2 separate regions of the Homo sapiens genome follow, and region 2 is linked to region 1. Evidence: fine-mapped expression QTL. Tissue or cell type: whole blood. Region 1 holds a variant in brackets; the other region holds the start of a gene. All regions are shown on one strand. Distances are between the middles of the regions.

Region 1 (8,000 bases):
ATGAGCATCCCCAGGCGGTGATAAGCCAGTAGAAACAAAAACAGTGCATTCCTCCAGCTCACTTCTATCTTGTTTCTCCACCCCTCGACCCCTTGCCTCAATCCAAGCCATCACCATCTCTCCCGGGACCACGACAGTAGCCTTCTGTTTGGTCTCCCTCTTTCCATGCTTGCCCCTCTGAATTTGACCTACACATGGCAGTCAAAGCAATCTTTTTAAAACAAGAAGACAATTCATGCCAATCCAGTGCTTAGCAGTCTCTTTGTTCTATATCAAGGCCCTACCTGAACTTGCTCCTGCATCCTCTCCAACATCATCTCAAATCATCCCCACCCCACTCCCAGCTCCCCCAACCCCCACAAGCACGCAAACCTCTCCTCCTTCCACCTTTGCACTTGTTCTCTGCCTGGTCTATTCTTCCCTAGCTCTTCCCATAGCACCTCCTTCTTACCTCCTGGTTTTCTCTCAAATGTCACCCCTTCAGACAGTCTCTTCTTAGCCCCCCTAAAATGGCCCCCAGTAAACTCTATATTACCAACCAGTTTATTTCCTCTGTCTAGTTATCATTGGATTTATCTTCTTTCCTTTTACTTTATTAGAAAACAAACTTTCTTCAGCATTAACCACTGAGCGAGGGGTTCTCAGAAAGTGGTCCAATGTCACCTGGGAATGAGAATTTGATAGAAAGGCACTTTCTTGTGCCCTACTCCAGACCAACTAATCAAACACTCTAGGGGTATTAACAAACTTTCCATGTGATTTTGATGCACATTCACATGTGAGAACCACTGCAGTATATTACAATGGCCCCTTATGCGTTCATGGTCTTCCCCACTAGAAAAGAACATTTATGAGGACAAAGAGCTAGTCTACCTTGTTCACTATCAATTTTCTAACCCCTAGCCCAACACCTAACATACTATAAACATTCACGGGGAGGAGATATCCTATTCCATAACCAATATTTGTGCTACTAAACTAAAGCTATGTAAACACCATGGACGTTTAAATGGTCTGCTGTTTTTCATCGTCCCCCAAAGACACTGCCTAGCCTGGGTTTGCTCTTCCTTCTGTTTTTCTTCTTCCATGACTCTTGGGTCACTATCTTTTTCTTCCATATTTCTTGGCACTCAGGACAAAAGGATTGTCCATCCAAAGAACTTACTAATCCGTGTAAGATGACCAATCTTCAAGAGCACTCCATCCATATAATATTATTTCAGTCTCAGGCAGTAGAACATGACTTTCAGCAAGGCTGCCTGAGTTCAAATCCAAGTTCTACCATGTATTAGCTGCGTGATCTTCCACAGATGGATTAAATTCTGTGTTTAGCTTCCTCATCTATAAATAATGAATCATGGCATCCACCTCACAAGGTTGCTGTGAGAATAAAGTAATTCATCATGTAAAGTGTTTGGATCATGCTGACATAAGGAAGGTACTCTATGCACATTGATTGTAATATGTCACATCCTGCCGGTTATTATCCCCAGCAGGATGGCAAATTCTTGGCCCTGGTGGTTCAGGACTGAAATACTGATCTACATAGCAGAGCATTGCCACTCACTCCTAGGCAAGGAATAAAAAGGCATTCCACATACCAGGAGCACTAACCCTACTTAAGATGGGCTAGTCTTTACAATTCCCTAAATCCTCCTTCCCACAGTTTCCTACTGTACGCTAGCAGCCTTTTCCACTTGAACACCTTCTCTCCCCAGCCACCATCTTTGACCTTGCTTTCAAAATGCTCAGAAATAAAACAAGTATTTGTTTAACAAATTAGACATTTCCTGGAAGATGTCTGCAATTGAATGAAATTGCCCAGAGGTGGTCAAGCCACAGGATAAGGAGTACAGGAGACTGGCTCACCTACTTCATATAAAGTGTTTGTCCCAGAGAAGACCCAATGGCAAAATTCAAAGAGGTGGACATGGAAAAAAGCAGCCTATTTCTGCCCTTCAAATAACAGAGGAAAATAAAGAGAAAAGAAATCATGGAAGAACAATTGACATATAACGAAGAAGTTCTGGATATACCTAGAACTTACAGACAGCAGCAAATATTTTAGAATTACTAGGACATCCGAGAGTGTCTAAAGCAAAGCGCTGACAAGCCTAAGATCTTACAGAGGACCCCCCATTGCTTCTGGAGGCAAATTTAAACTCCTCTCCACCCACTGGAAGAAATTGAGATTCTCCATCAGTTATACTACCTTAATCTTTTTCTTTGCATGCTTCACCTATATTCTTCCGCTCTGGCTAGGTCCTCTTCCCTTAGATCTCCTTACCCGTATATCCTCCCCACCACAACAGCTGGTTTCTTCCCACTTTTTTTCCCACTACACCATTGCTACTCAAAACCTGAGTAGTCTGTAAACTGTTAACATTCCACAATGAGACAAGCAGAGCTACTGAAAGTTCACATCATGGCAACATGACAAATTTTATGATTTTGAATCAATAATAAGAACTTTGGGTTTGTATTATGTAGGCTTTCTTTGCTCCATTTTATTTTCCTGAAAATTAATGTTTATATTTTATAAAAACACGAACCATATTGGATTGGAAATTAAAAACTAAAACAAAAAACTGACACATCAGAAAAGGAATGTTAAGGAACACTACCCTAGATCAGTCACAGGGAACACTCGTCTATTCTTTCTTTTTTTATTTTTTTGAGACGGAGTCTCGCTCTGTCATCCAGGCTGGAGTGCAGTGGCGCCATCTCGGCTCACTACAAGCTCCGCCTCCCGGGTTCTCGCCATTCTCCTGCCTCAGACTCCCCAGTAGTTGGGACCACAGGCGCCTGCCACCATGCACGCCCGGCTAATTTATTTTTATTTCTTTTTTTTTTTTTTTAGTAGAGATGGGATTTCACCGTGTTAGCCAGGATGGTCTCCATCTCCTGACCTTGTAATCTGCCCACCTCAGCCTCCCAAAGTGCTGGGATTACAGGTGTGAGCCACCATGCCCGGCCCACTCTTCTATTCTTTTCTCCCACAACCTAATGTTCTTCAGAGTGTGCTCTAAACTATCCTCCCTGTGAATGTTTCTCCTATAGTTTATACCCTATTATCATGTAAGCGGCTGGAATTTTTTAAATGAACTAAACAGAAAGGCAAAACAAATCATTCATTCTATTCCTGTGCAAGTTCTTTGCACTAAGGAGCCCGTTATTTGCTTTATGCTTCTCTCATCCTTTGCACAACACAGACGCAGCACAGTGTGGTGGTTCAACTTCTGGGTTAAAAAGGGACTTAAAAATGGAGTCCAATTCCCATGGGCCACAGCCAAACTTTGGCCATGTGACCTGAAGCAAGTCCCTTAACTCTTCTGAGCTTCTAGTTTCTCTTCTGTGATGTGAGGTCGGCATGGCATGCAAAGCCTTCCCAACTCTAAAATTAAATGATGTCTGTTTGTTCTTAGAAAGGCTCTCAGGTTCCTCACAGTCAAATGGGAAAATATCTCCCCTACC[T/C]CAGGGCTGGGAAGATTGGAAAGCACCATTAAAACCACAGAGCCTTCTGGGAACTTAAGGCATTTTTATTACTATCCTACATATACTAGGTGCCCATGCAGAATTCATGAACCAAACATAGAAACTTCACATATTCAGCCTCCAAAACTGAAGGCCAGGACAGTGAGGGATCTGGAACCTGACGAGGCAGCCACTGAAAAGAGAGGCTATTTGTTCTGGAGAAGATGAGATTGAGGAAGAAACCTGAAGAGCTCTCATGTAAATAAGAGAAGAATATCTCCATTGCTCTAGATGCATGAATTAAGTACAATCAATAGATGCTTTCAATGGGAAAGGAAGGAAGAAAGGAACTAATAATTCCAAAATGTTTAATATAGCTTAGTGTTTACATCTCATTTCCCCTTTTAATATTCACAACTCTGGCCTTACATACCCAAAGTAAAATAATTTTTGGTGAAGTAGAGGCCTGTGGTCTGTCCACTACACTGAACTGGGAAGCTAACTGTATCACAAAAAATAACAAAAAAGATTACTGTTAATGTCTTGAGCTGTTCAGTAAGAGAAGCCCCTGCCTTGCCAGAGATACTAAACGCAGTGGCTAAAGACAATCTGTCAAGGACACTAGAGAAGAGCTTCCTACCATGAATGTGACTCCTAGAATTCTGGTACCTTAAATCAATACAATGCCTATTCATAGCCCCTGAAATACCACACAACTGGAGAGACCAATTCAAGGTTGTCAACTTTTTTATTTTGACTTATAAGCACATTTATAAAACAACTCCATCAATCTAAAGAGGGGAGAGGGGAGGAACATTAAATTTAATATTCTCCCCCAAAAGCCAAACGGTATGATCTTACAATAAAAGATGGCCCCTTAAAGTGACTAATAATAGAGTCACTTAAAAATCATGACAATACCCCTAGTTTTCATATTTCACCATGCAACGTGTCAAACAGGCAGCTGGAAACCCACAACACTACACCAGATGACCTTCCTGACGAGCTACTTATAGATAAAACTTGGCCAGGTGCAGAGGCTCATGGCTGTAATCCTAGCACTTTGGGAGGCCAAGTCGGGAGATCACTTGAGATCAGGCGTTCGAGACCAGCCTGGCCAATATGGTGAAAACCCATGTCTACTAAAAATACAAATTAGCTGGGCATGGTGACGCACGCCTGTAATCCCAGTTGCTTGGGAGGCTGAGGAAGGAGAATAGCTTGAACCCAGGAAGCAGAGGCTGCAGTGAGCTGAGATTACACCACTATACTCCAGCCTGGGCAACAGAGTGAGACTCTGTCTCAAAAAACAAACAAACAAACAACAACAACAACAACAAAAACTCAGAGATAACAATGCTACTAGACAGAGTCTCTTAAATGATCAAATTCTAATGATGGTATTATCCTTTCTAGATAACACTTATTTGACCAAGTGCCTCTTCTGTTCTGTTCATCAGCTACTTTTTTTTTTTTTGAGATGAAGTCTCACTCTGTTGCCCAGGCTGGAGTGCAGTGGTGCAATCTCGGTTCACTGCAACCTCCGCCTCCTGGGTTCAAGCTATTCTCCTGCCTCAGCCTCCCAAGTAGCTGGGATTACAGATGCCTGCCACCACACCCAGCTAATTTTTGTATTTTTAGTAGAGATGGGGTTTCATCATGTTAGCCAGGCTGGTCTTGAACTCCTGACCTCAAGTGATCCTCCCACCTCAGCCTCCCAAAGTGCTGTGATTACAGGTATAAGCAACTGTGCCCAGCTCATCAACTACTTTGAATGCATCTAGTGCCAGGCTGGAGGCAAATGGTTCACATATCTTAACCTCACAATAATCCTAAGAGGTAGGTTCTATCGCTATTCTCATTTTACAGAACTGGAAATGGAACTTCTTTTTTTTTTTTTGAGACGGAGTCTCGCTCTGTCACCCAGGCTGGAGTGCAGTGGCGCGATCTGGGGCTCACTGCAAGCTCCGCCTCCTGGGTTTTTGCCATTCTCCTGCCTCAGCCTCCTGAGTTGCTGGGAGTACAGGCGCCCACTACCACGCCCGGCTAATTTTTTGTATTTTTAGTAGAGATGGGGTTTCACCGTGTTAGCCAGGATGGTCTCGATCTCCTGACCTCGTGATCCACCCACCTTGGCCTCCCAAAGTGCTGGGATTACAGGTGTGAGCCACTGCTCCTGGCCAAATGGAACTTCTTAAAGTCACCTCGAAATGATGTCAAGCCAGGATCTGAATACCCAGACAATCTTCAAAATCCTGTCTCCCGAATCACTACACCATAATGCAAAGAAAGAAAGAAATAAAAGACAGAGAGAGAGAGAGAAAGAAAGAAAGAAAGAAAGAAAGAGAGAGAGAGAGGATGGGAGGGGAGGGGAGGGGAGGGGAGGAAGGAAGGAAAGAAACTGTCAGGCACTAATGAATGATTTTAAGAAATATTCTAAAACTACTTATTTATCCAGGAAATTTATCCTGGATGGATAAATTATAAGGATGGATGTTTCACTTGGCTTGGTGAAAAGTGAAGACAACACTTATATAACTAACAATATATATGTAATAGTGTTTTCACCATATTTTTTTATCATGTATATGGAGAGGAAAAAGAACAAAATCCCAGGAAAATAAATCATGATAGCAGTAAAGATATTTTCTATAAGCCCTACAATTTTTGTCATTATAGTTTACAACATGGCAATAAAAATAGCTATTGGACCACTCACTCACCACAGGTGTTAATATCGTTTGTTCATATGTTATTACGTACCTATCACACAGCTGCAGGTAACTCTAACCCTACATGTCTTACGCTTGCAAATCTTGAATCTGTTTGATAGATAGGCCCTTAGCTATACCAGTCTTTGCACTGCATTGCGGGGATAGGAGGGGGTGTTGAAGGGAGATGGAGGGATTTGAGGGGGTGGGAATGGCACTAAAAAATCTGGCATATATCTGTCTGTTTGGTTACTAACTAGTTTTAATTTCAAAAAATCCCCCCTTCCATTTTACTTTGGTTCTTCTGCTGTTTCCACCCAATATTTAGATAGAAACATGAGCCAAAAAAGTTGGGATGGGTCTTAAATTTGGGGGCCAGCAGGCTAAAAAGCTTGGCCCAGAATGCAAACTGCCACTTATGTGGCTGACTCAGGACAACCAATGTAAACATGTAAGTTAGTCCAAATATACACACACTTGTTTATATTTTAAAACTTATTTTGCATCTTAGTAATTTCTTCCCTAAAAATAGCCAAGGAACCCTACTGTTTTGGCCAATTTTTTTTTTTATAAATTGCTGTTTTGAAAAGAAATTATAATTATCCATGTGTATTGAACAGACCAAAGACATGCTACTATTTTCTAGTGTTGAGAAAAGTTTCAAAGTGCTACCTAGAAGCAATCATTAAAACCAACGTACCTCCATAAAATGCATTTTTTATCAAATGCTTTATAAATAAATAGTGAGTTAAAATTGAGAAGGAGTGACTATTTTTATTGCATGTCACCTGGTCAGGTATTTCCTGCAAGAACAGGGACTAGATCCGTCCTTCCAATCCTTGTAATGCTAGGCATGAAAAGAAGGTGGTCCTATTTTTAAAGTCTTTATGGATTTTTACTTGAATCTCTTTTAAAGGACTAGTGTGTGTGTGTGTGTGTGTGTGTGTGTGTGTGTGTGTTTATGCTAAAAGAAATCATAAAGCTAGGCACAATGGCTCAAGCTTATAATTCCAGCACTTTGGGAGGTACAGGCAGGAGGACCTCCTGAGCCCAGGAGTCTGAGATCAGCCTGGGTAACATAGTGAGATTCTGTCTCTACAAAAAAGATTAAAAAATACAGCCAGGAGGGGTGGCGTGCCCTGTAGTCCCAGATACTCAGGACAGGGGTGAGGTGGCTGAGATGGAAGGACAACTTGAGCTTGCGAGGTTAAGATTGCAGTGAGCTATGATCGCTCCAGTGCACTCCAGCCTGAGCAACACAGCAAGACTCTCCACCCGCCCCAGGAAAAAAAAGACATAGAAACCATAGAGATGACCTAGTTCAAGTCATTCTCACCCCCACCTTTGGAACTTGTACTGATGAGTAAATCAAAGGCCATTTCTTTATTCAAAGCCACACAACCAGAATCAAGACCCAAATCTTGGTCTGTGCATTTTCCACATTTCTCCCAATACAAACTGATAACTAGTATGTATTACATAAAAACATCATTATCTAAAAATTGCAAGAGATGGCAAAACAAATGCAAGTCTAGAATGAACATCTATTTTCCTTACCTAAGACATTTATACTCTTCTGAAAAATGTATAGCAATAGTTCTCAACCAGGGGTGATCTGGCATTGGAGACAGTTGGCAATGTCTGAGGATATTTTTGGTTGCCACCACTTGGCAGGCAGAAGCTGGGAGGTTACTGGTATCTAGTGAGTAGGGGCCAGGGATGGTGTTAAGCCTCCTACAATGCCTAAGACAGACCCTATGATGGTTAATTTTATGTGTCAACTTACTAAGCCATGGAGTTCCCACATATTTGGTT
Region 2 (8,133 bases), 38 kb after region 1:
CCTTGCTAATCTTAAAACTATGTGCCAAACATAACCTAGGACATGCAAATTTGTGCTCGAGGTCTACGTTTCTCAAACACCGTAGCAATAACACACAAACCAGAGGACTCACATACACATTCCCCTCCCCATGACTTCATCTCTTCTCCCAATCTTGGAATGTAGGTGATTGAGTTATTAGCACAAATACAGTAATAACCTTGAATCCTTCTGATTAAACTTCGGAATTTTAATATTAGTAAGATTACTGCCTTGAACACTCCTCGGGGTGAATTGTGACAGGCCAGTGCATTGTGACACAAGATTGAATACTGTTGTTCAAAAACATAAATAGTTGCTACAGGTGCAGCAAATGGTGTGAATACAGGAATCCCATTCACAGTACTGAGGATCACATCTGACGCTGTCCCCAGACTCCGGTAAAGCGGCTTTCACCAGGAAATAGACACTGTTAGACTGAACAAGTTTCAACCAGCCTCAAGGAGAAGAAGCAGGTATTCTCTCTCTGGGACCTTCTCAAATCTGGACAAAAGGCTAAGTGCTGAGAATGAATCTGAAAATCCCCTGTGGGAATGGTGTCTGAATTCCATGCCACGGTTCTGCTCCTCGGTGTGGCCTTGCATCCTTATTTATTCACTCCAGCATTTTTAAGTGCCTCCTATGTACCGGGCTCTGGGGATCCCAAGTTGAGTAAAATAAAATCACTGCCCTGTCAGTCCCAGGATCTTTAAAGTGAAATGCACCCCCCACCCCTGTCCCCAGGGAAGGTGAAAGCACTACTCCAGGACAAGCCATTGAGCAATGAGAAGAAAATGAAGAACTCTGATTAGTAATTATAGTTTCATCTTTTTAACTTCTACTTTCATGATTGTAATTTTCTGTATAACTACAGAGGTTTTTGGTTCACATGCTCCAGCAATTAAGAATAGGTGAACAAACGCTTAGAGACCACGGAACTAGTCTCCTGATGTGTAACTGTATCTCAGTAAAGCTGCGATGGGAGAGCAGACTGGAAGTACTTGGAAAAAGACCCTAGGTGATCGCAACATGTCCCATATATGATCGACTGGAGTGTGCAAACCTGCAGCACTGGCCTTGCTTCATACATTGCTTTTGAGAATCACTGAATGAGCTAGTTTCCCCATGAGTAAAATGCAAATATGCTGTCCTTGAAAACCCTTTTAGAGAGGGTGGTTATATATATTTTTGAGGGTGAAATGAGTACTAAGGAGAAATAAGGAGTCACCAGAATGTACGATCACTCTACCTACAGGTCACAAATCTAAGAAAATAAAACACATTTGCACACCACCAAAGCTCAGAAAGTGCTAAGATAATGCTAGTTTAGGCACTCTAATTGAGACTGGTACCAATTATTTTTCTGTTTCCTAAGCCATGAACACTAACTTATTCTAAGGCCCAAAGTTGAAGATACAGCATTTCACCACCTTCAGTGAGTTCTACCAGAAGATGCTTTGGAGAGAGGAGTATGCTCTCATAAAAGTGTGATTATTTCTCTGTGGTTTTAGATACTAATGTAAAACAGCCCGTTTCCTTATAGGACAAGTCTACTCACTAAAATGTGAGGAATCTGCTAAACAAGGTCTTTACTACTGGTCAAAATAGTAAAATTGTGCTTTTCTATTCTATGCAGAGCCTTGCAAGAGGTTCAGGTAAAGGGACCTTTCTTTCTGCATTTCTTTCTGCACGAATTCCCTAAACGTTTCTAGAGAACTTGGGGAAAAATTAGTCCCATTTCCTCTCCACAGGTCTTCTTTCTCTTGATTCAATCAATTCCTGCTCAAACTTTCCCACTTAATGTAACTTTATGAACAAAATGCTCTTCACTGCAAAGTTAACTTTTTTTTTTAATGACAAGTTAAACTTCACTATACTGAAAAAAAAAAAAAACCTCAAATACATAACTAAAACTAACCTGAGACAGGAAAAATAACAAATGGGGAGGGGAAGGCTGAAGGTAGAAGAATGAAACAGGTTCCAAGACAACAGGCCTCGATGCTCACTAAAAGTCCATCCTGAGAGGGCAAGCGGAACACCTTTGCCACCACCCACCTGGAAATACAGCAATGCTCCTGCCTGCATAAAGATTTCTTCACAGGGTCCTTTAAAACTGTCTATTTCTAAGAGGTCCCTTCCACTACAGGTAAAAGGAAATTCCCTCTACCCTAGGGCCCCTCAGGATCCCTTCCTCTCTCACACGTTTCTTCGACTGCTCCTGATTTAAGCATTCAGCTGGCCACGCAACGCAAGAAGCAATAAGAACACAAAAACCCTACCCTGTTCCTCCTCTATCCGTGGCCTTTGCCACCACCTCCACAACCTAGTTCAGATTCCTCTTCTTTTCTCAAGGGAACGTCTAAAGCTCTCAAGTCCGTTTTGGCAGGGCGATTTTGTAAGTCTGAAACATTTCAGTGTGTCTCTCGATCTCAGGCAGCTCAAAAGAAAAGATCTGCTGGCTGCGTGAAGGTGCATTAGAAACCTGCTGCTACCTTGCAGCCTGGGCTGAGCATATGCTCCGGAACTTGCTTCTCTTCCAACATCCTGCACCTCAGGTCAGCATTCCTTCTTTAAAAGGCCTTGTTGGGTAAGAGCATGTCCACCAACAGAACCCTGTAATTCTCCCTTGTTTTCTCGGACTCCCCTGCGTGCTGCAGAAGCCTGGGCGTTAGTGGGGTAGTCCCGAGTGGAACTGGGCCGAGGTAGGTGCCGGGACGCACTACCTGGATGGGGCCAAATTGGAAGGAGATTCGCCCTGACTGAGGTACAGGTGTTTCTTCTCCCCACATGCTGGAACCCAGGAGGCTCCAGGTGCTTCCCCACGAGACATGCCTCGGTATGCAGACTGAGGCCAAGTTCTCGGCGCCCTCAGCCCCGCCAGTAGCGGAACTCCTGCCCGCTGAGCGAGGGCCCTCATGAGAAGGGAAGGTCGCGTGGACAGGCTGCCAGGGGCAAGCGTTTTTAGATTACTTCCTCCTTCTTGGCCCCAGATGCACTTGTGAGTTGGGGGTGTGCGCGGTGGGGTGGGAGGGTGCTTGTGCCCAAAAAGTCTGGGAACGAAAGCTACTGCTGGCTCGAACCCGGACTAGCAAAGTGCGGAAAGCCCGTGGCACAGGAGTGGGTGCCAGGCAGCCCGCACGCAGGTGACCGGCGGACCCCCTCCCCAGGCCCGGGCGGCGGCGGGGCGGGGTGGGGTGGGACTGACCCCTGGCTCCGCCCCGCGGCGCCCCCCGCTGGGCCCCGTTTCCTCCCCCCCCCTCGCGTCCCCGCCGCCCGCACTCACAGCGCTTGGGTGAAGGCGCTGAGCCCCTCGGGCACGGCCGTCAGCCCCTTCCCGGAGCAGTCCACCCGACGGTCGCCGTCGCAGCTGCAGGGCGCCGCGCAGAGAGGCGGCGCCGCGCCGCTGGGCCCGGCCGAGCCGAGCAGCCCCAGGGCGAGGAAGCAGAGCAGCCCTAGCGGGCCCGGCATTGCTGCGGCCGCCTCCCGCGCCGGCCTCTCCCGCGGCGCTGCTCGCTCCGCTGCCCTCCGATGTCCCCCGCCGCCCCCGGGCAGCCGGCCTGCGGGCTGGAGCGGGGGTCTCTTCCTCGGCGGTCCGCGCGGGCTCGGCCCCTTCAGCAGTCCGCCGCAGCGGCGCAGGGACGCGGCGCTCCGGAGTTTCGCCCTTCCCGCTGCTCCATGGACGCGCAGAGGCAGCCCCGCTCCTCCGGCGGCTCACGCCAGCCGGGCCGGCCCGGCGCAGCGGCGGGGGCCGCGCTCTGCCATCGCACCGGTCTCCCTGTCCCTGGCCTCTCAATGCAGCGGCTCTTCAAGGTTGCAGAGCGCAGCCTTCAGCCATGCCGGCCACTCGCCCCAGCCCCCGCCGTGGCTCTCGCACAAACACCCAGACTCTGGCTCGCTGTCTCCCAGCCGCGGCTCAATCTCTTCCCGTCCTTTTCCCTTCTAGGGTTGCACGCTCTGGTTCCCAAACCCCCGGCCGCTGGCTTATGCAAATCACTTAGGTACATGCAAAAGTATCCCTTCTCCCGGAGCGCCATTGGCCCGGGGAGGTCTCGAGCTCATTACTATGCAGAGAGGAGAGCCGCCATTGGCCAAGAGGAGGACCAGAGGGGCGTGTTTCTCGGGCGTGAGTGACAAGGTGGTGGTGGTTGTGGTGGTGGCGGCGGTGGTGGTGGTGGTGGTGGCGGCGGTGGTGGTGGTGGTGGTGGTGGTGGTTCAAGGCAAAATCTTGACTTGGCTGGATTTGTCTGGCAGGTTGTGGATTGAAGGTAGAAGGATAGTAGGACAAGGGGTCTAGTTTTTCCCTCCCCCACCCGTCTTTTTGTTCCCTCCGCAGAAATTGGATCTCCTAAATTGGATGACCTGGTAAGTAGAACTTCCCTCCAGCGTTCAGTTAAGTTTTAAATGACTCTCCGCTGTTCCAAAGGGCGAGGACGTCTGGAGCTCTGCAAACGGAAAAAAGATTTTGAAGAGGAGGAAAAAAGTTTCCCTCGATCTGACACACATCTTTGGGTTTTAGCTATACACTAAGTTAAAAGTGTACCCTCTCCAGTGCCTCACTTCACCTGGGATCTTTACACCTATCTTGATACACATTTGGTAGCTAAGTCTTAGCAATTCATTCTCCCCAGTCCTCTCTCTGTATTTGGTGTTTTTGGTGACTGCAAATTAGACTCCTTTCTCACGCACTTTAAAATCCTGAAACACAGGAATTTTGTAAAAGGTCAGAGAAAGTGATGTTTCTGAACACTGGACAATTTCCAAAACATCTGAGTGGGAGGTGACTACGGCTGAGAAGCCAGCAGCAACGTTGGTGTTAGGTAATTATCAGCATTCCCTCCTCTTCTGGATTTTGAGTCCCTGTGGCCTAATAGACCCCACGGAATCATTACCTGTACCAACTACGGCTTTAAGGGTACTTCGTTTCTTGCTCTCTGCCATGGCGTTGAGTCGTTTTACTCTATAATGGAGACATTTTTAATGAATACATTAAAACAAGCAGGATTCGGCCGGGCGCGGTGGCTCACGCCTGTAATCCCAACACTTTGGGAGGCTGCGGCGGGCGGATCACCTGAGGTTGGGAGTTCTAGACCACCCTGACCAACATGAAGAAACCCCGTCTCTACTAAAAATACAAAATTAGCCGGGTGTGGTGGCAGATGCCTGTAATCCCAGCTACTCGGGAGGCTGAGGCAGGCGAATTGCTTGAGCCCGGGAGGCGGAGGTTGCGGTGAGCTGGAGATCGCGCCATTGCATTCCAGCCTGGGCAACAAGAGCAAAACTCTGTCTCAAAAAAAAAAAAAAAAAAAAAAAAAAAAAGCAGGATTTAAAGATAATTATCATATAAAGTTGACTAGCCATCGTATGTAAATAAAACTTAGGACAATGGAAACAGGTTGATGCAGACCTATAAGTTTAAAATGAAAAAATTTTATCATCTTTGTATTTGGGAGTTTATCTAAAAGATAATGTCAGGTTGGGCACATAAGTCACATACAGTAAATCTGTCTAGAAGCTAGAGAGTTAATAAATAAACATATGCCTTCATTTCAAGTTTTAGGAATGACATATCTCCTCTCACTGCAGGGCTGAAAGACAACTTAAAGACCCCCAGAAAACTCTGGTTTTATAGATAAGAAATCTGAGGCTCGAGAGAGAGTGTGTTCTGCCCAACATCATCACGGAACAGCTCCTGGGCTCCTGGCTCCTAATCTGGTACTCTTAGAGCCTTCCCTAAATAGGCTTTCATCGTCTAAATCATTTCCATTATTTTCTAGCAACTGTCATGAACAAATAAGGAAGAAATTGTAAAGTTAGTTTCTGTAATCGTTTCTTTAAGATCTCTTCTTTTTTTTTTTTTTTTTTGAAACGGACTCTCACTCACTGTGTCCAGTGGCGTGATCTTGGCTCACTGCAACCTCCACCTCCCGGGTTCAAGTGATTCTCCTGCCTCAGCCTCCCCAGTAGCTGGTATTACAGGTGCCCACCACCATGTTTAGCTACTTTTTTTTTTTTTTTTTTTTTTTTTTTTTTAGTAGAGATGGGGTTTCTCATGTTGGCCAGGCTGGCCTCAAACTCCTCACCTCAAGTGATCCACCTGCCTTGGCCTCCCAAAGTGCTGGGATTACAGTCATGAGCCACGGAGTCCGGCTTATATGCAAATCTTGATTAAAAATGCAGAATGATTTAGTAGGCCTAAGTGGGGCCCAGAAACCAGCATTTTGTTGCACAGCAAGTGAAAGTGACACAGGTGATTCATGAACCACACTTGGAGAACTTTATTCTTTGTCTTCAAATAATAAAATCTTATGGCTGAAAACTTAGGTGAAAGGAGAGATTTATATTTTGAAAAAAGGGGAGATGCAGATTTTACTAAAAAATAAATTCCTATTGTCTATTAGATGACAAATGTAAGAAAGGAAGATTCAAATTTGCAGCTTAGCCAAGAAGATAAAAGATCAGGAACAAAAGACTTGGGTAGGGAACAGAAAAGATAAGATATATTGAAGTGTTTGTATTTCTTATTTGGTACATTTTGTATGCTTTGCATTAGAGATACATTGGTCAATTAGTCTCCATCTCTTGGATAAGATGTCCCAAGAAAGTATAAAGACAAAAAACAAAAAACCAGTGATTAAGGTAATATCTCAGATAACTAGAGAAAAATGATCAGCTCTTAAATAAATCATAAGGACTGGAAAGATACTGAGATAAACCAAATAAAAATTGACGGCAAGCAAAAAATAATAGGGTCTCTGTCTACAGATCGGTTCCTCTTAAAGTTTTCATTGGTTGTGTGTAAGTAAATTTGCGGCATCCACAGGCTAGATAAAAAATAGAACTGGGCTGCAACCCCTCTGCATATGTGGCATGGAGCTTATGGGCCATGAAGAAAGTACCCTATCGTAGTGATACTTGCCTTGGTGTCTTTGTGCAGAGCACACAGGACTTGTTGACTGATGGATAAGCTGGACTTCGGTTCTACCACCCCTTTACCCAAGAACTCTTGTAAACATAGAACCTGAACAAGTATATGCAGAGGCCCTACCTGTTGGGTGAACGGTTCAAGGTGCCCTGTTACAACAACAGCTCAGATACAGTGGGGGCTCTGAGTGCTGTAATGATTGACTGGATAAAAGTCCTCAAACATGTAGAATTTCACTTTTTATGAACTATTTCGACTTAGAAAAAGAGTTAACAGCAATCAGCTTAAGAAATATTACGAATGTAGTTGAAGCTCCCTTTGTACCACTCCCCAATCATATTCCTTTTCTTCCTCTCCCTGAGAAGTAAGCAGTTTCCTAAACTTTGTAGTTAATTCCCATGCATATTTTCATGCTTTTCGTATGCATGTATCCCTAAACAATAAACAGCATTGTTTTTCATATATAAATCAACATCATTGCGTACTGTTCTGCAACCTGCTTTTTCACTCAACCTGTGAGTGTAATCGACATTCACGAACTATGAGGCTTGTAACTTCATTTTTATTACTATATAATATTCCACTTAATGAAATGCCCAGTGTGTTAGGGTTCTCCAGAGAACAGAACCAATAGGATATATATAGAAATACAGAAAGAGATTTATTGTGAGGCACTGACTTATACAATTATGGAGACTAAGTGACAATCTTCCATCTACATGCTGAAGGCCCAGGAAAGCTAGTGGATTTGTTTTAGTCCAAACTTGAAGGCCTGAGACCCAGGGGAGTCAATGATGTTTTGGTCGAAGTCTGAAGGCCTGAGAACCAGGAGCAGTGAAGTCTGAGGGGAAGAGAAGACAGATGTCCCAGCTCAAGCAGAAAGCAAATTTATCTTTTCACTCTTCCACCGTTTTTTGTTTGTTTGTTTTTTTAAATGGTGTTTTGTTTTGTTTTGTTTTTGAGATGGAGTCTCTCTCTGCGGCCCAGGATGGAGTGTAGTGGTGTGATCTCAGCTCACTGCAGCCTCCACCTCCTGGGTTCAAGCGATTCTCCTGCCTCAGCCTCTCAAGTAGCTGGGACTACAGGCATGCACCACCACACCCAGCTAATTTTTGTATTTTTAGTAGACAAGGGGTTTCACTGTGTTGGCCAGGCTGGTCTTGAACTCCTGACCTCAAGTGATCCACCCACCT

The links. PIP is the estimated chance that this variant, and not a neighbour inherited with it, causes the effect.
Region 2: LGR4 starts here. The variant in region 1 is fine-mapped to the expression of LGR4 in whole blood (TOPMed, PIP above 0.99).

Annotation. Positions count from the first base shown.
Region 1 is chr11:27,430,555-27,438,554 of GRCh38, forward strand. The region is part of intron 1 of LGR4 (leucine rich repeat containing G protein-coupled receptor 4); the gene reads right to left. Among named protein-coding and RNA genes, the nearest start is that of LGR4-AS1, 37 kb to the right of the region's middle. The variant T/C (reference allele first, on the strand shown) is at 3,475.
Region 2 is chr11:27,468,817-27,476,949 of GRCh38, forward strand. It overlaps LGR4 (leucine rich repeat containing G protein-coupled receptor 4), which reads right to left and starts at 3,974. Exons shown (of 18, transcript NM_018490.5): 1 at 3,302-3,974. The coding sequence starts at 3,486. LGR4-AS1 (LGR4 antisense RNA 1) reads left to right here and starts at 2,915. Exons shown (of 4, transcript NR_131170.1): 1 at 2,915-3,016; 2 at 3,962-4,141; 3 at 4,352-4,380. RefSeq lists silencers at 3,088-3,147, 3,398-3,567, 3,698-3,747.